2 separate regions of the Homo sapiens genome follow, and region 2 is reported to be linked to region 1. The links are microRNA targets in miRTarBase. Many come from high-throughput screens and were not tested one by one. Region 1 holds a microRNA gene; the other region holds the end of a gene's coding sequence.

What was found. Region 1 holds the annotated microRNA hsa-miR-766-3p (ACUCCAGCCCCACAGCCUCAGC, at 2,367-2,388, opposite strand). A microRNA usually pairs through its seed, bases 2 to 8, with sites in the 3' UTR of a target mRNA and lowers its output. Matches are read on the target gene's strand: a 7mer-m8 pairs with bases 2 to 8, a 7mer-A1 pairs with bases 2 to 7 and ends in A, and an 8mer does both.
Region 2: miRTarBase lists RER1 as a target of hsa-miR-766-3p. Seed matches in the 3' UTR shown: 7mer-A1 at 1,003-1,009 and 7mer-m8 at 2,181-2,187.

Annotation. Positions count from the first base shown.
Region 1 is chrX:119,644,397-119,648,636 of GRCh38, forward strand. MIR766 (microRNA 766) reads right to left here and starts at 2,452; the gene lies at 2,342-2,452. All of the region lies in intron 5 of SEPTIN6 (septin 6), which reads right to left. RefSeq lists an enhancer at 3,506-3,685.
Region 2 is chr1:2,402,643-2,406,642 of GRCh38, forward strand. RER1 (retention in endoplasmic reticulum sorting receptor 1) reads left to right here. Exons shown (of 7, transcript NM_007033.5): 7 at 393-2,794. The coding sequence ends at 482. PEX10 (peroxisomal biogenesis factor 10) reads right to left here. Exons shown (of 6, transcript NM_002617.4): 5 at 3,842-3,977; 6 at 1,332-3,192. The coding sequence ends at 3,124. Among named protein-coding and RNA genes, the nearest start is that of PEX10, 7.9 kb to the right of the region's middle.

The DNA.
Region 1 (4,240 bases):
AGAAATTTATTCAAAAAAAAAAAATTTATTCCTCATAGTTCTGGAGGCTGGGAGGTCCAAGATCAAGGCACCAGCATTCTGGTCTGGTGAGGACCTTCTTGCCGCATCCTCACACAGCAGAAGGACAAGCTAGCCCAACACTGCATGATGTCTCTTTAAAAAGGGTCTTCGGCCAGGTGTGGTGGCTCACGCCTGTAATCCCAGCACTTTGGGAGGCCAAGGCAGGTGGATCACGAGGTCAGGAGTTCAAGACCAGCCTGGCCAAGATGGTGAAACCTCATCTCTACTAAAAATACAAAAATTAGCCGGGCGTGGTGGCGGGCGCCTGTAATCCCAGCTACTCGGGAGGCTGAGGCAGAGAATTGCTTGAACCTGGGAGGCGGAGGTTGTGGTTAGCCGAGCCAAGATCGCACCACTGCACTGCAGCCTGGCCGACAGAGCGAGACTCCATCTCAAAAAAAAAGGGCCTTCATCCCATTAACAAGGGAGAAGCCCTCATGGCCCAATCACATTTTTTTTTTTTTTTTAAGATGAGAGTTTCGCTCTTGTTGCCCAGGCTGGAGTGCAATGGCACGATCTCGGCTCACTGCAACCTCCGCCTCCCGGGTTCAAGCGATTATCTTGCCTCAGCCTCCTGAGTAGCTGGGATTACAGGTGCCTGCCACCACGCCCAGCTAATGTTTGTATTTTTAGTAGAGACAGGATGTCGCCATGTTGGCCAGGCTGGTCTTGAACTCCTGACCTTGGGTGATCCACCCGCCTTGGTCTCTCAAAGTGCTGGGATTACAGGTGTGAGCCACCGCGCCTGGCCAGGCCCAATCAATTCCTAAAGGCCCTACCTTTTTTTTTTTTTTTTTTTTTGAGACGGAGTCTCACTCTGTCGCCAGGCTGGAGTGCAGTGACGTGATCTCAGCTCACTGCAACCTCCGCGTCCCGGGTTCAAGTGATCCTCCTGCCTCAGCCTCCCGAGTAGCTGAGACTACAGGTGTGTGGCACCATGCCCAGCTATTTTTTTTTTGAGATGGAGTTTTGCTCTTGGTGCCCAGGCTGGAGTGCAATGGCGTGATCTCAGCTCACCACAACCTCCGTCTCCTGGGTTCAAGCGATCCTCCTGCCTCAGCCTCCTGAGTAGCTGGGATTATAGGCATGTGCCACCATGCCCGGCTAATTTTGCATTTTTAGTAGAGACGGGGTTTCTCCATGTTGGTTAGGCTGGTCCCGAACTCCCGACCTCAGGTGATCCACCCGCCTCGGCCTCCCAAGTAGCTGGGATTACAGGTATGAGCCACTGCGCCTGGTAATTTTTTGTATTTTTAGTAGAGACGGGGTTTCACCATGTTGGCCAGGATGGTCTCGATCTCTTGACCTTGTGATTCGCCCACCTTGGCCTCCCAAAGTGCTGGGATTACACGTGTGAGCCACTGCACCCAGCCCCGACCTCTTAATACTATCATACTGGCCACACCTGAATTTTGGAGGGGACACAATCAAACCATAGCACCACCTTTACTGACTTGTGTCTAACTTAAATTCTTCTTGTACATTGTAAAGTACTTAATAATCCAATTGGCGTGAGTTACTTTATTCTTATTTCACCACATCCATTATACTTGGGAGGCTAGGTGACTGCTTAGCCCAGTGAAATACACACTGTCAGAACTCTTTATTCCTCATCTAATGATAATATTCTGATTGGGCTTGGTTTCCTCCCAGGGTGGACAGTGTTTCCCAGTTATGTTAGTCCCCATTTCAGGCCCCTGCTGGTGACTGAACAAGACCATTGGCTGATTTGCTCTCAAGTCAACCACTGGTGATTCCTGTAAAAGTACATGGCAACAATGGAAATACCATTGCTGTCTCAGAGGAAGGGATGGACTTGTGCCTGTGGGTCTTCCTATGACCCTACTGTTCAGCCATGTGTTCTCACTGGGCCCAAATGTCAATTGCCTTTGTGGGAACCAAACCCCAGACCTCACAAATGGACAATTAATGGAGCTCAGTCAATTAAGTAACTGGGCCTTTTTGCTGGTCCTGGCCATGCTTTCAGCCATTCAAAGAACATCATTAAATTTAAAATAACATAGCAATTCTTAGTATTAAAGTCTACAACCTTGAGAGATATCAGAGCATGGGTTGAAAATAGCATGCAACAAGACCTCGCTCTCCCTTCTCTTCCCCCTCAATCTACAATAAGGTTTTCTGGAGCCACCCATAATTCAAGGTGGTGGCAGGGACCTCATTACTCTCATTTCCTGCCACAAAAATCCCCCATGGTGAGAGACAGGACATTGTACAGTCTTCTCCACTCAGGCAACAGATTTCTTCCGCTTCTTCCAATCCAGCTCCTATGACAATTGGCTGGGGTGGCTGAGGCTGTGGGGCTGGAGTCAAATCCAAAATGAAAGACCAGCACCAATTCCTCCTACCACCCAAGCCCAGGTCCTGAGGATGCAGCTTCATACACCACGGCTTGTGTGAAGACTCTGGGGACTTTTGACATAGTTGTTCGGTGGCAGGCAGGCTAAGCAATCCTCTGTGTATATTTGATAGCACCCTCTTTCCCATCACAGCGCATGTAACACAAAACACTCACATGCAAGCTCCTCTCACAGGCATGCCAATTCAGGCACACTAGCTGTGAGGCCACTCCTCTCTTTCCCACTCAAAAAAAACCCATAGTGGATTAGCCGGGCATGGTGGTGCATGCCTGTGGTCCCAGCTACTCGGGAGGCTGAGGCAGGAGGATTAGTTGAACCCAGGAGGTGGAGGCTACAGTGAGCTGAAATTGATTGCATCACTGTACTCCAGCCTGGGCGACAGAGTGAGAGCCTGTCTCAAAAAAAAAACAAAGCACAGTAGGATGCAAGGGAGTAAGTGGTGAGTGATTTATGATAGGGATAATCCTGAATCCACTGGAATTCCCTGCTCCTCTCCTCTCCTCCCCTCCCCTCCCTTCCTCCATTCCTTCCTTCCTTCCTTCCACTGGAATTCCCTCCCTCCCTCCTCCCTTCCTTCCTTCCTTTTTATTTCTTTCTCTCTTTCTCTCTTTATTTACTTTCTTTTTCTTTCCTTTCCTTTCTCTCTCTCTTTTTTTTTTTTTGTGAGACAGGGTGTTGCTCTGTCACCCAGCCTGCAGTAGTGCAGTGGCTCGATCAGGGTTCACCGCAGCCTCAACTTCCCAGGCTCAAGTAATCTTCCCACTTTAGGCCACCCACCGACCAAGTAGCTGAGACTACAGGTGTGCGCCACAGCACCAGTTAATTTTTTCTTTTTTGAGATGGAGTTTTGCTCTGGTTGCCCAGGCTGGAGTGCAAAGGCGAGATCTCAGCTCACTGCAACCTCTGCCTCCTGGGTTCAAGCGATTCTCCTGCCTCAGCCTCCTGAGTAGCTGGGATTACAGGCATGCGCCACCATGCCTGGCTAATTTTGTCTTTTTACTAGAGACGGGGTTTCTCCATGTTGGTCAGGCTGGTCTCGAACTCTTGATCTGAGGTGATCCACCTGCCTTGGCCCCCGAAAGTGTTGGAATTACAGGCGTTAGCCACCGCGCCCGGCCACTAGTTAATTTTTTTTAAATTTCAGTAGAGATGAGGTCTCACTATGTTGTTCAGCCTCGAATTTTGTTTCTCAAAGTGAAACACAATTATGAGTAATAAAGGACCCAGAATCCCTTCACAGCCATAACAGCATGCTTGACAACTGCTGCTGCCTAGCTTGGGGGTTTCCAGCCTTGAGGTTGAGCCTACCCTAGGCTTAGCAGGAGGCCAGAGCTGAGCTGAGAACAGAGCCCAGGATGATTATCACTCCTAATCCATGAGGTACCAAGATGTGGTTCTGTGTGACACCTTGAGATGGCTGAGTACTCTCAGTCCCTATTTATTCTTAGCAAAGCAAACCACAAGCCTGCAAGCTGCTTGATGACTTAGGGCATCAGTGTTCAGAAGGTCTCTATGGGGACTGATGTCCTGAGGTGACTAGACGCTTCCAGACATCAGTGCCCGTGGCACCCAGATGACACTTCTCGCGAGGCTCCCGTTTTTCTGCAGACTAGGCTGTCTCTTCATAACAGAGCCTAGTTTCCATCAAAATGCCCTGACTTCTCGAGAGGACAAGTGCTAATCTTTTTTATTTTTTCCATGCCCACGGCCGGTCAGAGAAGACCTATCTCTACCTACCATGCTCCAGATAGCCTTACCCTTGAGCCAGATTTGTCTAAGATGGTGATGGTGATAACAAACAC
Region 2 (4,000 bases), not on the chromosome of region 1:
CCCGCGCCAGCCTGCCCGAGGAGGAGGGTGTTAGGGGGAAGTTAGCCGAGACTGCGGACTGTGCCCTTGACGGTGTGGCCTTCGTGCTGCGGGCCTCACTCTGTGCCCGGGGTGTTGGCTGCAGAGAGGGCCCTGGGCCACCTCACATCCCCCTTGCCCTTCCTCCACGGGAGGCTCACGAAGCACTGGGATTGATGGGGTTTCAAACCTAGGCCTCGTGGGCTGTGGAAGGTCTTGCTGTGTTGATGTGGGCGCAGGAAGCCACTGGGGCTCCGATTCCACTTGTCTGATGTATAGAAAAGATGGGGGACCTTTGGCCGCTCAGATTTGGGGACAGTGTGACTGACTGGAGAGCGGTTGTGCAGTAACTGAGTCTGTGTTTCTCTCCCCAGCACATGATTAAGTACCGGTACATCCCGTTCACACATGGGAAGAGAAGGTACAGAGGCAAGGAGGATGCCGGCAAGGCCTTCGCCAGCTAGAAGCGGGACTGAGGCTGCCTCACGTGTTGCAAGAACAGTTTTGAGCCATTGTTAACAATGCCTTTTTTCTTCACATAAAGTAGTTGATTACGAGGGAGTCAAATTTTCTTTTTAAAAAGGAGCTTCAATGATTTGTAACTGAAATATCAGGTTCTAGAAGAAACTGGCGCTTAAACCAAATCGCATGGATTTCTTTTTCAGTGACGTTCAAGTGTTTCTCACGGATGGAATTCTAGTCAGCTGCAGGCGGGAAGCCAGGCGGGTGGAGCCCATGGGAGCAAGGGCGAGTGGCCGGTCCCCGCTGTGCCAGGTGGGCAGGCAGGAGCAAGGCCTGCGAGGGAGGAACGGGCCGCTCCCCGCCAGCCGCCTTCCCCAGCAGCCGCAGGTGGTGCCAGCCACTCCACAGAGCCCGAGGGATGATCTAGCCTGATTCCTGCGTGTCCGAAAGAACTTAACGTTTTAAAGGTGATTGTCAAGTAACTGTGTGGGGTTCTAATGCCAGTTTCCTAATTCCATCTCACTGGAGATGTTTAAAGTTGGCCTCTATCCTAATGACTCAAAACTTGGTTCTTAACTACCATGATTGCTTTTGAGGGCCCGGAATTATAAATATATATTATATTTTAATTGTTTGAGATTATTTTGACACATTTCTTTGATACGTAGAGTGTTTTGTTTTTAATTTAAATCTGTCCTCATGCAACCCTCCATGAGGGGCAGCGAAGCTGGCAGGGAGCAGACTGGCTTTGTAGGTTCAGCACTCGGCCCCCCACTGCGGGAGAGGCGGAACCCACTTGCATGTCAGCGTTTTTGATTCGAGAAAAGAAATACTCTCAACGTTTTACCAAGTGATTTTACCTCCACCTTTACTAAAGTCTTTACCTAAAACATGGCAGTCGCTGGACACAGGAAAGCCCACCTTTTGTTTGGCCTTTTCGAAAGGTGACCCATATTGCACAGCAGAACATCACAGCTGTGGTCCCAGATGAGACACTGACATGCGAGTGAAGGCCTCTCCTCCTGGGCCCCGGGCTGCGCAGGCTCCTCACTCTGGGCGGTGTTTCCTGTCTCAGAATTGACACGGTGAATGCTTAGTGTCTGGATTTTCTTGTACCAGTGTTTACATATCTGACATCGAGCTCCTCTAAGAGGCCACGTTCAAGCTTGTGTGTCCCTGACCCAAGATAGCCAGTGCTGCTCCCAGGTGGTACTTCTGGTACCGTGTTGAGACACTTGGGATTCTCAGACTGTGGACAGGAGTGTTTGTCATTTTTCATACTGTTTTCTTAATAAGCGCTCAGGCCTAAGGTGTGACAGGAAGTCGCACGCGCTTGGCCAGAGCACAGTGAAGCAAAGGACTGGGTGCTGATGGATGGAGCCACGGCGGCATCTGCCCACCCGGCCGCAGCCCCCAGTGCCTCTCCTGGTGGTCCTCCCAGTCTAGAGGGTCACGGCCCCCCCGCCCTCCTCCGTCTCTGGCAAGCTGACCTTGACTAACCCAGGAATACAGGGTCATCCTCATTCCTAAGTAAGTCAAACAGCAAGACATGGTTTGCGCGGGTCTTTGCCGGAAGCCGGTCCTGCTGGCCAGGTGTTTTACGTCAGCAGGGAAATGTGGCACACGCCCTCGAGGCATTTTAACACTGCGCTTCAGGAAATCTCAAGTTCCATCTTGTGTTAGTAACGTACCCACATTTTGCTGGAGTTAGTTTATTAAAGATGCCTACGGTGAACTCTCTGGCGCAGGTTAAATGCAGTTTTGAAAACCTGGAAACATCAAATGGAGGCGGGAAATAGGCTGGGGCCGAGCTGAGGGGCTGAACACAGCAGTGACCGTGGGTCAGCAGGTCGCCTGCCCAGCAGGCCCCCCAGGAGAGGGCTCGGGCGCCCCTGGCAGCCCCCATACCCCCAGGACCTGGCTCGTGAGTGCGTCTGGGTCAGGAAGAGACCTCTCTGTGCGTCTCAGGCTGAGATGCAGATTTCTGTTTTCTAAAACTGGAAGCGACCTTGACGTGTATTGAAGGTGTGTGTGCCAAATGCTTCCGACGGAGGTGCTGGCCTTGGTTGGTTTCTCTCTGCCCCGTGTGGTCATCAAGTCCTGGGGGATGTGCTCTGCCCAGCCGCCCTCGGGGAGAGCAGCGCCGCCTCCCATGGGGCCGTGGGGCTGCTGTTCTCACTGCACTGGCTGAAGCAACCCGCCAGCCTCCGTGCCCCACCCCACCCAGCACGCACTCATTCAGTCCATTGCCTTAACACAAGCCTGATGGGGCTGTTTTCTCACAATATAAACGAATAAAGTGTCTTCTGGCCTACTTCTGAATTACTTCTCAACTGTATGGTTTGGGGAAGGGAGGGAAACCTAAAATCCCGTCCAAATAAGTGAAATTCCTGAAGAAGTGGCTGAGTCCTACCAGGTTGGGGTTAGGGAAATGTTCTGGGTTCAGGCGCCCCTCCCAGGGCTGAGAAAGCGCAGCCAGGGACAGCTTTCTGTTCTCTCCCAGGGTGGCTAGGTTAGTATCTTACATGACAAAAAACTGAGAGTGTTCTAACTTCTGTGCAAGCAAGGTTAATCCTGAGACTAAATCTTGGCGTTCAGACTCCCGTAGAGGTCATCTGTGTCCAGGCCCACCCGGGCGCCGGCTCAGCGGTAGTGCCGAAGGTAGATGAGCTTCTGGGGAGGGAACTTCTCCCGGCAGAGGGGACACTCCGCCTGCGGAGAGGAGAAAGGGGGTCACAGCAGCTGGGGCCACTGGGCCATGCCCATCCCCATCGGCATTTCTTTTCCTGTCCACATTCTCTGCACATGACACACAACATAAATGTTGTATTTCCTTCAACTAATGACCAAGAAAGCCAGCCTTTTTTCAGAAGGCCGAGTCCCAGTGGGGGCTGGGGCGGGGCTGGGGGCGTAGGGCTCAGGGTGTGGGGCTCGGCCGGGAGGTTCCCTCCTGCTCCCGCAGCTGACACAGCCCACGAAGCCCAGCTCCTGGGAAAGCGTGCGCTCTCACCCTGCCGGCATCTTCGGTGGGTGTGAGTCAGTGTGCTAGGGTTTTCAAGTGTGGTGAGGACCCCGGGAGGAAGGGTGTGCTGGGATGCGTGGTGCAAGCGTGGGGCCTTTCAGGGCTGGCCACTACCCCAACCTGCATTCGGCAAAGCCTCAATACACGTGAATTTGGAACTTTAACCCCCTCAACGAACCCACATCTGACCTACCTGGGAGCCTTTAAAAAGATGCCCACCTCTGTACCCTCAAAACTGGAGGGTGCTCAGAGCCAGACTCCCCACTTCTGCTGCAGCCAGGTGCATCTTGCCGGCACAGCCGCTGACCACCCCAGGACGGCAGCAGGCTCCCACCTCACCTTGCTGCTGCACCACGCGGTGATGCACTCCCAGCAGAACAGGTGGCCGCAGGGCGTGGCTGTTGGGTGCCTGCGCTCCTCCAGGCACAGGGTGCACAGGGGGTTTCTGGAAACGGCTCTCTCCTCCAAGGAGGCCCTGGGGAAGGTGGGGCAGAGCGT